Homo sapiens: one gene and its partners. The protein of the gene in region 2 purifies or fractionates together with the protein of the main gene of each other region. This does not show direct contact. Each region holds a gene or a part of one and is shown on either strand. Other genes may lie near its edges.

Region 1 (3,500 bases), on a different chromosome or scaffold from region 2:
ATCTTAAATTTTCTGTAATAACTCCTACGTGCTATGCTAAGTGCTGAGGATACAAAGATGAATAGGATGGTTACTACCCTCTAGGAGCTCACAATATAGTGAAGACAGTACATAAATAATTATAACATAATATGGATGTGCAATGATAGAAATACATACATGATATTGTAAAACAATATGAAAGAGGGAGACCAAACCAATCTGTAAGGGGTTAGGACAGATTTTCTGGAGAAGATAATGCCCGAGCCGAAGGAAGTTTTAATTTGGGGTTAAAACCTGATATTGTATGCACATTTTGGGGTTATGTGCATTTTTCTAGAGTGGTTTCAAGGTATTCATCACACAGTCAAAGGTTTCCACCACCCCTAACATAAAAACCATCCTCTCAAAGGATGAATAAGAATCAAGTAGGGAGGCTGGACATGGTGGCTCACGTCTGTAATCCCAGCACTTTGGGTAGATCGCTTGAGCCCAGGAGTTCGAGACCAGCTTGGGCAACGTGGTGAAACCCCATCTCTACAAAAAATACAAAAATTAGCTAGGTATGGTGGTGCGTGCCTGTAGTTCCAGCTTATGGGGAGGCTGAAGTGGAAGGGCCACTTGAGCCTGGCAGGTAGACGTTATAGTGAGCTGTGAGCATGTCACTGCATTCCAGCCTGGGTGACAGAGCGAAACCCTGTCTCAAAACAAAACAAACAAACAAAAAACGAATCAGGTAGGGTAAAAACAGGTGGTAGGGGTAGGAGGACAGGGCTTTCCAGATAGCAAAGGGCATGAGTAAAGGCGCAGAGTGAATAGCATGGTATATGCCGGGAACTACACATGGTTTGGTGCTGCTAGAAGATGAAATTCAAAGAAGGAAGAGGTTAAAAATGAGGCTAGACAGGAGGAGTGGATGTCCAATCACTGAGAGCTTTGAAGGCCACCCTAAGGAGCTTAGATTATAGTCTGTAGGTGATGAGGGTTATTTAAGCAGGGAAATGGCATGGTCTGATTTGTTTTATATTATATAGAGCGGTATGGTGGCTGTATGGAAGACACACTTGAAGGAAACAACAGTGTAGAAAGAGAAACATTATAGAAATGTGTTATGGGAATTCAGATGAAAGATGATAAAGCCCTGAATTAAGACATTTGGTGACAGAAGAGGAGAAAACAGATTTGAGAACTATTTAGAAGGTAAAATCAACAGGGAGAAGTCAAGGATGACTAGTTTGGAATACAGGATGAAGAGTGAAGCTACCCAATTTATATAAAGAATACTGGAGAAAGAAGAGGTTTAGGAAAGGGGGCAGAGGATGGGGAAAATGATGAGCTCATTTTTGAACACACTAAGGGCCTGAGGGACAGCCAGCAAGATGGATCAAGATATCCAGCAAGTATCTGGAATAAAAGACAGATTGTGAAGGCAGGTCTAAGATATACCTATGAGTTGAAACCACCAAAGTACATGAGATCACCTGGGAATAGTATCTAGAGTAAGGAGAGCAATGTGCCAAGAAGAAAACACTAGAGGATAAGGAAAACAATTTTGAATAGTGAGGTAGAGGCAGGAACCAGAGTGTAGCAGGTCAGAATGAATGGGAGCTAAAGCAGTGGGGACAGTAAATGCAAATTACTCTAGGGAGAGCCAGGAATGAGAAAAAAAGAAAACATTAGATAATAGGCTAGAGAAGAATGTGGAATAAAGGGAAAGTTTATTGGCCAAGGGGAAAGAAAGCAGTCAAGTAAGGAGAAAAAGATGAGAAGGATGGTGGAATACTAGAGGATAAACTGATAATACTATTATTAATATGATTAGGTAACTTTTATTGAGCATTTACTATACTACAGGCTCTCTAAGTAGTACTTAGCATTATAATCTTATAAAAATAATTAAAAACTCAGTACAGTGGTTTGATTATCCTATTTTCACGGAGAAAGATGAGGTTTAGAGAAGTTAATCAATTTATAGTAAGTGTCAGAATCAAGATTGAACTCAAGCTTGTTTGACTCCAAAATCTGTGCTTTTTTTTAAATATTATTTTTTCAGCTCTTATTGAGTCTGTCTGTTTAGAAAATCTGTGCTTTTAACCACTTCAAAATACGCTACTCTAAGATCAAAGGTAGGTAGAATGGCTTTAAACCGGAGTAGGGGAACCCCGTTTTCTGAAATGGGAGGAAAGGAGGTAAGAATGGTTGTGAACACAGATAACCTTTTAGATTAAAATGCAGAAAGTATTCATAGTAGGAGATCATACCTTTTGGCTTCACTTTTGTTGAGTAAGTACGAGGCAAGGTTATCTGCTAAGAGTAAGAGAGGTGAGTTAGAAAAAGGAGCTTTGAGGAGAGTGACAAAGATTCGGAGAAACTTTGAGGGGAATGAAACAAGTAGCTGATTAAGGTCAAGAAAAGGAATAATTCAGTGAGCTGAGGGTTAAACTCCTGGCGTTGGCAAACTACACAGCTATGTGATTTTCTATAGTAGCCTTCAGGCCTCTGTATTAGTAGTAAACAAACTATAGCAGTGATCCAAGTGTGGACTTATATATACATGAAGGTAAACGAACAAGAGGGTGTAAGAAAGTAAGTTGGATCCAAGCATCTAGATCAAGCAGAAAAGGAAAGGGTCAAACAGATTAGGAGAAAATGTCCAGGATATCCTTTGGCTATTATAAATATTTACCGGTGGAGACAGATGTAAATTCAGAGTTTAGAGACCATATTTATATGACTTATGAAGCCACGACTGAAGACAGAGAAGTTGGGCAGTTAGGACTGAGGGTGGTATGTATAGTGGAAATGGATGATTAAAAAAAAAATCACCAAGATTGCTATGAAATGGAAGAGAAAACAAGCAAAAATTTTAAGTTTATATGGTGGGGAGGGGAATGGAAGAAAAGAGAAACAGATATATACCTTTAATATTTCATTGTGGCCTCCTTTCACATTGAAAAAGAAAAGCTTAAAAAGACTTTCAGAACAAAATTATGTCCTTTGCAGCAACATAGATGCAGCTAGAGGCCATCATCCTAAGCAAATTAATGCAAGAACAGAAAACCAAATACCACATGTTCTCACTTCTAAGTGGGAGCTAAATATTGGGTACTCACCAACATAAAGATGGCAAAAACAGAAACTGGAGACTACTTGGGGGCAGGGGAGGGGAGAAGGGGGAAGGGTTGAAAAACTAATTATTGAGTACTATGCTCAGTACCTGGGTGACCGGATCATTTGTACCCCAAACCTGAGCTCCCACAATATACCCGGCACAAGTACCAAATCTAAAATAAAATAAAAGTTGAAAAAAAAAAAAAGACTTAAACTACACACACACACACACACACAAGTAGCTGGAGAATTCATTTACATCCAAGTAAACACAAATTCTGGCAAGATTATAGAGGATCCAAAAAGAAAGCAGAAGCAAAATGCAATTTCAAATAGCTTTGCAAATAAAATGGAAGGCGTATAGCTTCTTATTAAAAATGAGACTTGATACTTTCAGAATTGTACAGAGT
Region 2 (3,500 bases):
AAAATATTATATACCATTCAAGATACTGTTCAATTATAATTTCCTCTGTGGAAGTGAATTGTTTCCTGGTCTCTCCTTGGAGGCTCCCTCATAATATGTTATAGCATGTGTCATGTTGCATACATAATTAGTGGGGATTACATCTGTGGAACTTTCAGATTACTGGTGACTTGAGGCAGGGATTATGTCTCATATCCAGTGCCTAGCTAGGCCCATGCTTGTCATAAAACAAGTGAATATTACAATGTTTCTTCAATAAATTGCAAAGATAGTCATTTTAGAATCATGATTTACTGATTTTGCATCCCTAAATGCCAACCTTTAGGCCAGCTCTCACATTATAGGCATATTAACCTGCTGGGAATCTTTGCCCCTGCAGAGGTTGGAGGAGGCTTTTTGTAGGAGCTTCTGGGGGCTAATTTTAAAACCACTGATCTCTGACCCCATTGTTTTACTTATTGGTAAACTTACTGGAAGTCTGGTCATACTTCTGAACAATAACTACTACAGACCTCACATGAGCATGGCTGGATTTCACCTGTGGGTGGAGATGAAAAGTAAACGCTCTCTGTCTGCATCAATTGGAGAATTAGGGACCAGGAACAGCACATTACTTAGAGCGGTATTTTTCAGTGGGGGTGGAGTGCTATTGGCATTTTGGACAGGACATTTTTTATTCTGCAGGATTTTTCTGTCTAATGCAGGATATTTAACATTCTAGATCCCAGTCCACCAAAAGTCAGTAGTAACTCCCCTCTCCTCCAGTATCTGTGACAATATAAAATACCCCTTATTGAGGTGACATTGCCTCAGGTTGAGGACCATTAATTTGGAAGAAACCAGGAGGCCTCTCCTATTGTAAGTGCCATTTTCTAGATTTACAAATTTAAATCCAAGCTCTTCTTAACCTTGAAGACATTGATTTAGCTGTCAACCCTGGTTCAGAATTGGGTATCAACAGCTTGAGAGTAATTTCTGGCTGGGAAAGACTGAAAGGATGGAAAACCCATCTCTTTCCTCTGGACTAACTCTATGGTTAACAAGGAGCTTTAATTAATGCCATCTCACTGGCCCTATTTGTAATGTGAGGGGCAAGATCTATTACCCCTATTTTAAAGGTAAGGAAGTTCAGTCTTGAAGTAGTGAATGGTGCTGGCCCAAGTGTCACAGGTAGTACATTTCAAAGCTGAGTCTGGAAAGCAGATCTTCTGACTCCTAGGCCATCCCGCTCCCCACAGAGTATCTAGAAAACCACAGAGGAGGCCGGGCGCGGTGGCTCACGCCTGTAATCCCAGCACTTTGGGAGGCCGAGGCGGGTGGATCATGAGGTCAGGAGATCGAGACCATCCTGGCTAACAAGGTGAAACCCCGTCTCTACTAAAAATACAAAAACTTAGCCGGGCGCGGTGGCGGGCGCCTGTAGTCCCAGCTACTCGGGAGGCTGAGGCAGGAGAATGGCGTGAACCCGGGAAGCAGAGCTTGCAGTGAGCCGAGATTGCGCCACTGCAGTCCGCAGTCCGGCCTGGGCGACAGAGCGAGACTCCGTCTCAAAAAAAAAAAAAAAAAAAAAAAAGAAAACCACAGAGGAAGAAGTAGAGTTATGTATTCCGTAATTGGCCTTGGTGTTGATGGGATATGTAGCTAGTTTAACAAGCCAGAAACTAGAGCTAAAGAATAAACATGTATATTTGACTACTGTCAGAGCATTCTCAGCTGGTTAGATATACCATATTAAGAGCTAAATGCCCATTTGTATATTCAGTACATTGAAATACACAGTGAAACAGATGGGTACTGTGGTGTATTGTATTTATGACTAATTTGTTAACATAGGATTAATGAGAAGAAAACGATTTTCACAACATGATTTTGAAAGTTTTAGTCTTAGCCTTGACCCAAGCCTACCTCCAGGAAATGACACTCTGGGAGCTCTCCCTCTCTACTGTAAAAGCTGTCTAGATTGTTACACTGAGTCAAAAACCTAAAGGCAGAAGCTAGAAGACTCTACTGAACAGTAAAGATGTGGTGGGCTGACCTTTATAGCATTAGAAGGTGCTGGATTGATCCTGCACCAGCATCCATCTATTTCTGGTGGTGTGGCTGGCCACACATTCTGGGAAGAGGCAGAAGAGTGGTCCTCACCACATGCAGCCACCTGCACAGCACCAACATTCAATGCTGAATCACGTAAACAATTGGTCAATGACATCAATTGCAAAAGCACAAGAGCCATCTTACAGAAAGACAATGTAGATTCCCACACACAGGACTGAAGTTCTATTCACCATCTTGGTTGCTCTTCTAGTAAAAAATTGAGCTAAAATAGAAATTCTCCAGAGAATTGGCTGGTGTGTCAAGTGGCTATAAATGGCACACATCAGCTATCTATCTGTCAGATTTGTGGTTTTTATAGAGGCGGTGTAGCATGGTAGCACAAACTTGTTACCTGTGTCAAATTGGGCAGGTAATTTAACTACTTTAGTATCCAGGTTTCTCATCTGTAAAATGGCGATGATAGCATTACCAACCTTATAAAGTCATAGTAATTGTATATAAGTATTAGCTATCATTATCATTATTGTTTCCAGGTAAGGTACTAGCATGAAATTCAGAACTTCTGATAAATAATGATGTAAAAATAAGAATCTTGATTTATGTTTAATTCTTCGGTCTTAAGGAGGCAAATAATGGATTATTCAAGCTCTTGGCCCTATTTCATCGAACCATAGAATGTTATGGCTTGCAGGATATTGTACACTATTTAATCTAAATAACTTCTTTTAGGGATGAAGATTAAAAAGTAAGAAGAGTTAAATCCTTGCCTAAGTTCTTGCAACATGGATGATGCTGAGGTTTTGAATCTTTTTCTATGGCTTATAGTTCCACCCCTGAAATTTCTACCTGCTGACCATCCTTGACCAGTAGTTCTTTCACCTGGAGGTACAAAGGGAAATAATCTGAAATCCAAACACATACTCTTTCCTACTCCCTGAATCTTTGAGAAAAGATAAACCTGAATCTTTGATAAACTCATAGACTAAACAAGTTTTCATGACTAATGAAATGATGCATGATGTTAAAAAATGCAGAGTGGGTTCTATAATTGCCTGAGAGAGAGAAGACTCAAGTCATATTCCTCTGACATCAACTCAGGTGAGTGTTCCCAGCATCAATTTCTCTCTAAAGTGAGAGAGTTCAGTTATGTGATTGTTATAAAATATTGACATAATAATATGTTGTATAATCTCTAACAAACAATTAAGCCTTTCCATTTCTGAAGACCATTTTGTCAACAGAATGTTTAAACACCTGGGTGCAATTGTTTCTTATTTACTGATTATTTTTCAAAAACATGGAAAAATTTTTTTAAAATGAAGAGAAAATGAGAACCAGCTTGATCATTTGTTGTTCATTGGGTTGGAATATTTTGCCTTTGGCAAATAAGAATCAGTTAATTCTAGGCGTTTCCTTATTGACTTGCTAGAATAGAATGAGCTGTT
Region 3 (3,500 bases), on a different chromosome or scaffold from region 2:
AATTAATCTTTCCTATCTGGTTTCAACAAACATTAGCCAAAGCACAGCCATCCTAGAACTCTCTCAGTACTGGGTCCTTGAGCCACATAAGTTTTCGTGTCTATAAATGCTTTTGAAATTAGAACCAAAATATAACAAAGAAATCAACCAGGTGAAAAAAAAAAAACTAACTAAAGAAAATACGTAAATATAAACATTTACATTTAGATGAGAAATCCCTCCAAATTGAATTTTTTTTCTTAGAGACATTTCACTCTAATTACTCAATAATTAGTCAATATAATTACTCAATAATTTTATGAAATTGATGAGTCCTGATGCCAACAATATCAGAATACAAAAGAGCTAACAATCAATGCACCCAGAAAATTAAAACTAATCAAAACATTTTTTATTAAGCAAAGGAAACCAAGAGGCAAGAAAATGATTTGAGGATCATGGCTGTAAAATGTCCCTTTCTTGACATTTGGAGGAAAGGCAGCAGTCAAGAACAAGGGGAAGGGAAAGAAATTATCAACGCATCACTTACTTCTTTGTATCCAAAGATGATTCGTCCATCCATGAGCAGGGTTGCCTGGAATGTGAAGCTTCCCAGGTTATAATTATCCTGGAGATGTACATGGTCCCACTGGACCACAAGTGCTGTGCCTATACACCCATTGAAAAAAGAAGAAATGCAATGAGAAAAACATACCAATCAATTCTGGTGGGAGTTTTCACAAAAATGTTTTTGCATCTGGCCTTCAAATCTGGTAGTTGTACTATTTCGATTTTATGTGGTTAATCAAATTCTGTTATTGAAATAGCATTTGGGATTTTTTTTAAAGGATTGAGTACTCTCTAAATATTTAGTAAAATAGAACCTCATACTAAGGTCAATAATTGAGCTAATGCAGTGTGGGGGAATTTTGCCTTAGGAATTTTATTAATGTTAATAGATACTGTCTGCTTAAATTTCCATAAGCCACTTTCAAAATGCAGCCCAAGTGGATTGAATGAACTTCAAATACATTTGACAAATGCTGAGAGAGAAACACATCTAAAAAGTTAGGACCACATACAAAAGACCTGAAAATGTCTTTTCCATACTTAAAATTATACTTTTCCACATTGAAGGAGTTCCTTTAACACTAATGGGAATTTTCTCCTTGAGTTCACAATGCTTGTATTTCTGTCTTTGTTGTGTTTCTTCCAGGAAGCTGTAAGAAGCTCAAAGGGCCCTGGACTAAGATTTTTGAAGTCCCCTTGAAGCACACTGGGATGAAACTTCAGTGCTGTATATTATATTCTGAATCACTCTGTCAGTGTTTACCATAAACGATTGGGCATGAAATAAAAACTGAAACATAGTTTAATAGTCACCAGTGAGAATTCAAATTTTTGTTTTAACTGACATTGTGTACTCTCTTTTTTTAAAAAAAAAGAAAAGAAATGAGCTGCTAAGACTTTTTCTTCACTCTAAATATTAGATTTTTCTGTTTGGTTAGAAAAACTGTTGCCCAAAAAAGTTGTGCTGAAAATGAAAATCATAGAACTAAAAGAGCAAATCTTATCTCCCAGTAATAAATATCTGATATATTTAAAAATTACAATTGCATGGAAGAATTAATTTTCAGTAACTATTTGGTGCTATTAGTAATATCTCTTGAGCTGGTTGACAATTTTAAATAGACACATTATTTCAAATATTTTGAACACCCAATTGTAAGTCCTGAAAGGATGTTGAAGTAAAGAAATGTATTTCTTTTGAGGCAAAACTTTAAAAGTAAAAAAGAAAAAAAAGTTTTTTAACTTGACCTTGGTGCTTTTAGCCATTATCACTGCTGTGAGTGAAGACCACTCAGGTCTCTTCCTTCCACGGGCATCTCCGTGTCTATATTGTCCTGAGGGAGGGAGGGAGGGAGGGAGGGAGGAAGGAAGGAAGGAAGGAAGGAAGGAAGGAAAAAGAAAAGAAAAGAAAGAAAGGAAGGAAGGAAGGAAGAAAGGAAGAAAGAAAGAAAAAGAAAGAAAGAAAGAAAAGGAAGCAAGGAAGCAAGGAAGAAAGAAAGGAGGGAGGGAGGAAGGAAGGAGAAAAGAAAAGAAAGAAGGAAGAGAAAAGAAAAGAAGAGAAAACAAAAAAAATAGAGCAAAAGAAGACAGTAGCCAGGAAACCTCCCATGATTTTATAAGTATAGGAATTTTCTGATTGTGAAATGCCTCCTAACTTCTTTTTCCTTCACACATGTCTACAACCCTCAAGCTCTAGTCTATTCCTTATTTTCTAGTTTCTATCGCACTCTGGTGATGCAGTGAAAACAATGAACCAGAGGGCAGAAGACTTAGACTTGCATCTTGTCTCTATAAAACTTTCCATGTGAACTTGGACACAATTAATCTGCATGAACCCGTTTCCTTTCCTATAACATGGGGAGTATAGTTTTTGCCTTCAAGACATTCCTGCATTAAATACAAGAAAATATACTTACGCTTGATTATTTATGAAAATAAGAGGGCTATATAAATTAAAGTTTTTAATGCCAATTCTGAGGAAGGGATTCCTAATATTTTGTTAGTAGCAGGTTGTTAAAAACCACACTGTTGACCAGGTGCGGTGGCTCACAACTGTAATCCCAGCACTTTGAGAGGCCGAGGCAGGCGGATCACGAGGTCAGGAGATCCAGACCATCCTGGCTAACACGGTGAAACCCCATCTCTACTAAAAAAAATATTAAAAAATTAGCCGGGCGTGGTGGTGGGCGCCTGTAGTCCCAGCTACTCGGGAGGTTGAGGCAGGAGAATGGCATGAACCCGGGAAGCGGAGGTTGTAGTGAGCAGAGATCATGCCAGTGCAGTCCAGCCTGGGCGACAGAGTGAGACTCCATCTCAAAACACAAAAAACAAAAAAAAGTGTACTGTTTGCACATGTTAAGTTTTATATTATGTAATAGCATAGCTCTCTCAACATTTGCTGATTTAAATTTTCTAACCTGCTGCTGTCTTTTCCAGAGAAGTTTGCTTTCCTAAATTGTTGAGTTTCCAATCTTTAAGTATCCTGTCAATGATTCTAACTAAACTTGAAAATATTTCAGCAAGTTGTTGTGGTATTAAAAGGGCTTCGTGAAGAGTCTTACAGTGTTTAAAAGTGTTTCATTCATTTAATAAAACGTAAGTTTTCATTATCATATTGTTTGAACTCAATATTCCTCAATATTTGATTCCTATGGAATAAGTCATTACACAGAAGATATTTCAGTGGGTAAACAATACATGCATTCTTGAGTATTAATACTTTTACAATTCTCAGACATAAAACTCACTTTACGTATGTAATTATTTTTATTCATTCATTGAATAATTATTTAGGACCTACGTCCTAAATAATAAAGTGTCTATGCAGGGTACTGGAGATAAAATGATTTCTTATAGCCACAGTCCTTGTTTTTAAAGAACTTAAGAGTTCAGTTGGAGTAGTATACATCAATTTTTAAAAATCATTCAAATACGAGTAAAATTCAAATATT
Region 4 (3,500 bases), on a different chromosome or scaffold from region 2:
CCCACCTCAGCCTCCCAAGTAGCTGGGACTACAGGCAAGCGCCACCATGCCTGGTTAATTTTTATATTTTTAGTAGAGGGGGTTTCGCCATGTTGGCCAGGCTGGTCTCGAACTCCTGTACATGTTTGTACATGTTTGTACAGCCTACAATACATGTTTGATAAGAAAGTTATTCATGCCACTGTGCCTGGGCACAGTGGCTCACACCTGTAATGCCAGCACTTTGGGAGGCCAAGGTGGGAGGATCACCTGAGGTCAGGAGTTAAGAGACCAGCCTGGCCAACAAGGAGAAACCCCAACTCTACAAAAATTAGTCAGGCATGGTGGTGCACACCTGTAGTCCCAGCTACTCAGGAGGGTCACCTGAGCCTGGGAGGTTGAGGGTGCAGTGAGCCAAGATTGCATCACTATTCTCCAGCCGGGGTGACAAAGTGAGACCTGTCTCAAAACAAAAAACATATACTCCAGGCTTGCTGAAGTGGCTCATGCTTCTAATCTCAGTGCTTTGGGAGGCCAAGGTGGGAGGACTGCTTGAATCCAGGAGCTTGAGACCAGCCTAGGCAACATAGAGATAACTTATCCCTAAAAAAAACTAAACAATGAGCCAGGCATGTTGGCACACGCCTGTAGTCCTAGTTTTTCGGGAGGCTGAGGGAGGAGGACTGCTTGACCCCAGGAGTTCAAGGCTGCAGTGGACTATGATCGGACTATTGCACTCTAGCCTAGGCAACAGAACAAAACCTCGTCTCTAACAAAAATAAAGTAAAATAAAATAGGCCAGGCGTGGTGGCTCACGCCTGTAATCTCACCACTTTGGGAGGCCGAGGCAGGTGGATCACCTGAGGTCAGGAGTTCGAGACCAGCCTGACCAACATGGTGAAACCCCATCTCTATTAAAAATACAAAAATAGCTGGGTGTGGTGGCACACGCCTGTAGTCCCAGCTACTCGGAAGGTTGAGACAGGAGAATAGCTTGAACCCAGGAGGCAGAGGCTGCAGTGAGCCGAGATCACACCACCGCACTCCAGGCTGGGCAAGACAGAGCAAGACCCTGTCTCCAAAATAAATAAATAAATAAAATAAACTCCATGTGCTCCATTCTAGGACTCCTTCAGCTATATCTTCCTCTGGAAGAAAGAGGTATTATTTACCCTCCACCAATTCTTTTATCTGAGCTCACACAGACATCACTGCACCCACCATATAGGAAATGAAGACACTGCTGTCGTTCTAGAAGGGACAGGGATATACAGTTCTAGGAGTGTGACATGGCAGCAGCAGAGACGACAGGAAGCAGAGGCTGGCTGGGGACTACATCTCTGGCATATGTCAATCAACCCGATGATGAGGCAGTCTGTCATTCTCTGGGACAATGGAACGATCCATAAGTCTGTAAGTGTTTCGGTCCACTGACCAACTCTCCCTGAAGGCACTCTTTCTCCGTGGCCTTGTGGCATAGGTAAGGGAGGTGCGAGACCTGGATGGTGCAGCCTGGCCAGGGCTGGGACAAGGGTCCGGCCCCCTCAATCCTGCCTCTTCCCACCTGCACACTGCCTGGGCTTCACGCCAGTGCTATACCTGCCCTTGATGTACGCAGTGACCTTGTAGGACAGACAAGATAGTGCCAACCACTGTGATAAAAAGAACACACAGTTCTAGTCTCCTAAGCCAACAAAGACCACCAAAGAGGAGCTGCTGTCTCTCATATTTACCATCTTGGTGTGAGATTACGGAACAGCTTGAGACCGAACAAAGGCCCCTGTAGGTCTCCAGCTCCAAATTCCAACTGTTTGAAAAGGAAAAAGAGAAGGCATTAATGGTGTTTTATCTCATAGCAGCAACCCAGGCTCAGGTATGTACCTCTAGGTATAATTCCTTCATTCAATTCACTGGTCTTGCCAGGGCTCTAAAAGAAGGGGGTGGAAGATTGTTAATGTCTCATCTTAACCTTTGCCAAATGGAGCTGTCTGCTGCCACAGATCCAAAGGAGACCCAGGCTTCAAAGGCACATGTTTCATTGGTGTCCCTCCAAAGAAAAAACTGCTCCCCTCTGTTCCTTGCCTCCCAGGCTGAGGTCAGGAGACCAGCTGGCTCCCCCTACCCCTCCCGGCGCAGCCCCCCGCCACCTGCAGAGCACCGACTGCGGTCCGGTGTGCCCCCCACCCCCGCATGCACTGCCGACTCCTTTTCATTTTCATCCTGCGCCAAATGTCTCCCAGGTCACTGGGGCGGTCCTCAGGAGCCTGATGTTAAAGCCCAGCCGCGGTTCCACACCCGCACAGCCTTGGAAGTCACAGCTGAGCCTGGCTGCCGTGTTTACTAGTCTGGGTGACTTTCAAGCAACTCTTCAATGTTAATTTGATGCAGCTCAATTTGCTCGGCAGAACTGGCTGTTAAATGGCCACCAATCAGTGAACCATCACGCGGAAGAGAGCACCTGCCTTCTGAATTGTGCAGGAAAAAGAGCCCACAGGCTTTTTGCTCAAAGGGAACAAACACACGGAGTTTCAGAGGCTGGATTTCTAGAAGTTGGCATCTCATAGGAAACCTTGTTTTTCTATGCCAATTTTAAACTGTGAGGAAGACTGACAGGACTTCTCAGATATGAGACCTATTTATTTATTTATTTTTGAGACGGAATTTTGCTCTTGTCCCCCAGACTGGAGTGCAACGGCGCGATCTTGACTCGCTGCAACCTCTGCCTCCTGGGTTCATGTGATTCTCGTGATTCTCCTGCCTCAGCCTCCCAAGTAGCTGGGATTACAGGCAGGTGCCACCATGCCCAGCTAAGTTTTGTATTTTTAGTAGAGACGGGGTTTCACCATGTTGGCCAGGCTCATGAGACCTATTTTTCTTTTAGGACCAGTCAACTTATGGAAGCTTGACACTTGGTACCGTTCTTACACAACAACGGGGCCCCCAGGGTGAGTTTGAGGGTGAGCTTTGAGAGTGTAAATGTTCAGAAATAAGGCTTTGCACAGACAACACAACTCAGCCAATAGACATTCTTACCTCTCCCCATCCCTTTGCCGAAGTTACTCGTCTGAGCGCAAAGTTAATGGAACCTCCTCCATTTCCATTCTGGGTTGAGAGGCTTCCAGAGAGGATGGCTGTGTCTGTCGCTGTCAAGGGTGCCTAAAAATGGTATTTGCTGGTAATGAATGAATCAAAACAACAGGAAGTGCCAATGGCAGCAGCCTAAAGAACGCACTGTGAGCCCAAGGCCAAAGGTGCAGACGATTCCTCTGTTCAGAAGCACACATGGATGCAGAACTGCCGCAACAGCTTCACTTTTCTTCCGCTTTGTTATTTGGTCTGCATGTGACCACGAGGGTAATATGCTTTGCAAAAGCTTTAATGGGCACATTTCACAACACCAGGGGAAACATGGGGCTGCATGTCCCAATGGTATCAGATAGCACAGTGACTTCACTGTGTGCCTTCCCTCTGTGGTTTGCCATCAGGGTTCCAGGGGGACTGAAGACCTTCCCATGGCTGTA

What was found.
Region 1: the proteins of SLC7A14 (region 2) and GPR89A purify together in Homo sapiens (affinity purification with mass spectrometry, with the first as the bait; one large-scale study listed by BioGRID). This does not show direct contact.
Region 3: the proteins of SLC7A14 (region 2) and PLXDC2 purify together in Homo sapiens (affinity purification with mass spectrometry; one large-scale study listed by BioGRID and IntAct). This does not show direct contact.
Region 4: the proteins of SLC7A14 (region 2) and DNAJC11 purify together in Homo sapiens (affinity purification with mass spectrometry; one large-scale study listed by BioGRID and IntAct). This does not show direct contact.

What each region holds. Positions count from the first base shown.
Region 1 is NC_000001.11:145,610,988-145,614,487, reverse strand, and holds part of GPR89A (Golgi pH regulator A), read right to left. Parts: intron 2,287-3,500; exon of another isoform or gene 2,241-2,286; intron 1-2,240. UniProt on the Homo sapiens protein: Voltage-gated channel that enables the transfer of anions such as iodide, chloride, bromide and fluoride which may function in counter-ion conductance and participates in Golgi acidification.
Region 2 is NC_000003.12:170,576,076-170,579,575, forward strand, and holds part of SLC7A14 (solute carrier family 7 member 14), read right to left. Parts: intron 1-3,500. UniProt on the Homo sapiens protein: Imports 4-aminobutanoate (GABA) into lysosomes. May act as a GABA sensor that regulates mTORC2-dependent INS signaling and gluconeogenesis. The transport mechanism and substrate selectivity remain to be elucidated.
Region 3 is NC_000010.11:20,144,932-20,148,431, reverse strand, and holds part of PLXDC2 (plexin domain-containing protein 2 isoform 1 precursor), read right to left. Parts: intron 649-3,500; coding exon 530-648; intron 1-529. UniProt on the Homo sapiens protein: May play a role in tumor angiogenesis.
Region 4 is NC_000001.11:6,649,817-6,653,316, forward strand, and holds part of DNAJC11 (dnaJ homolog subfamily C member 11), read right to left. Parts: intron 3,136-3,500; coding exon 3,013-3,135; intron 1,787-3,012; coding exon 1,713-1,786; intron 1-1,712.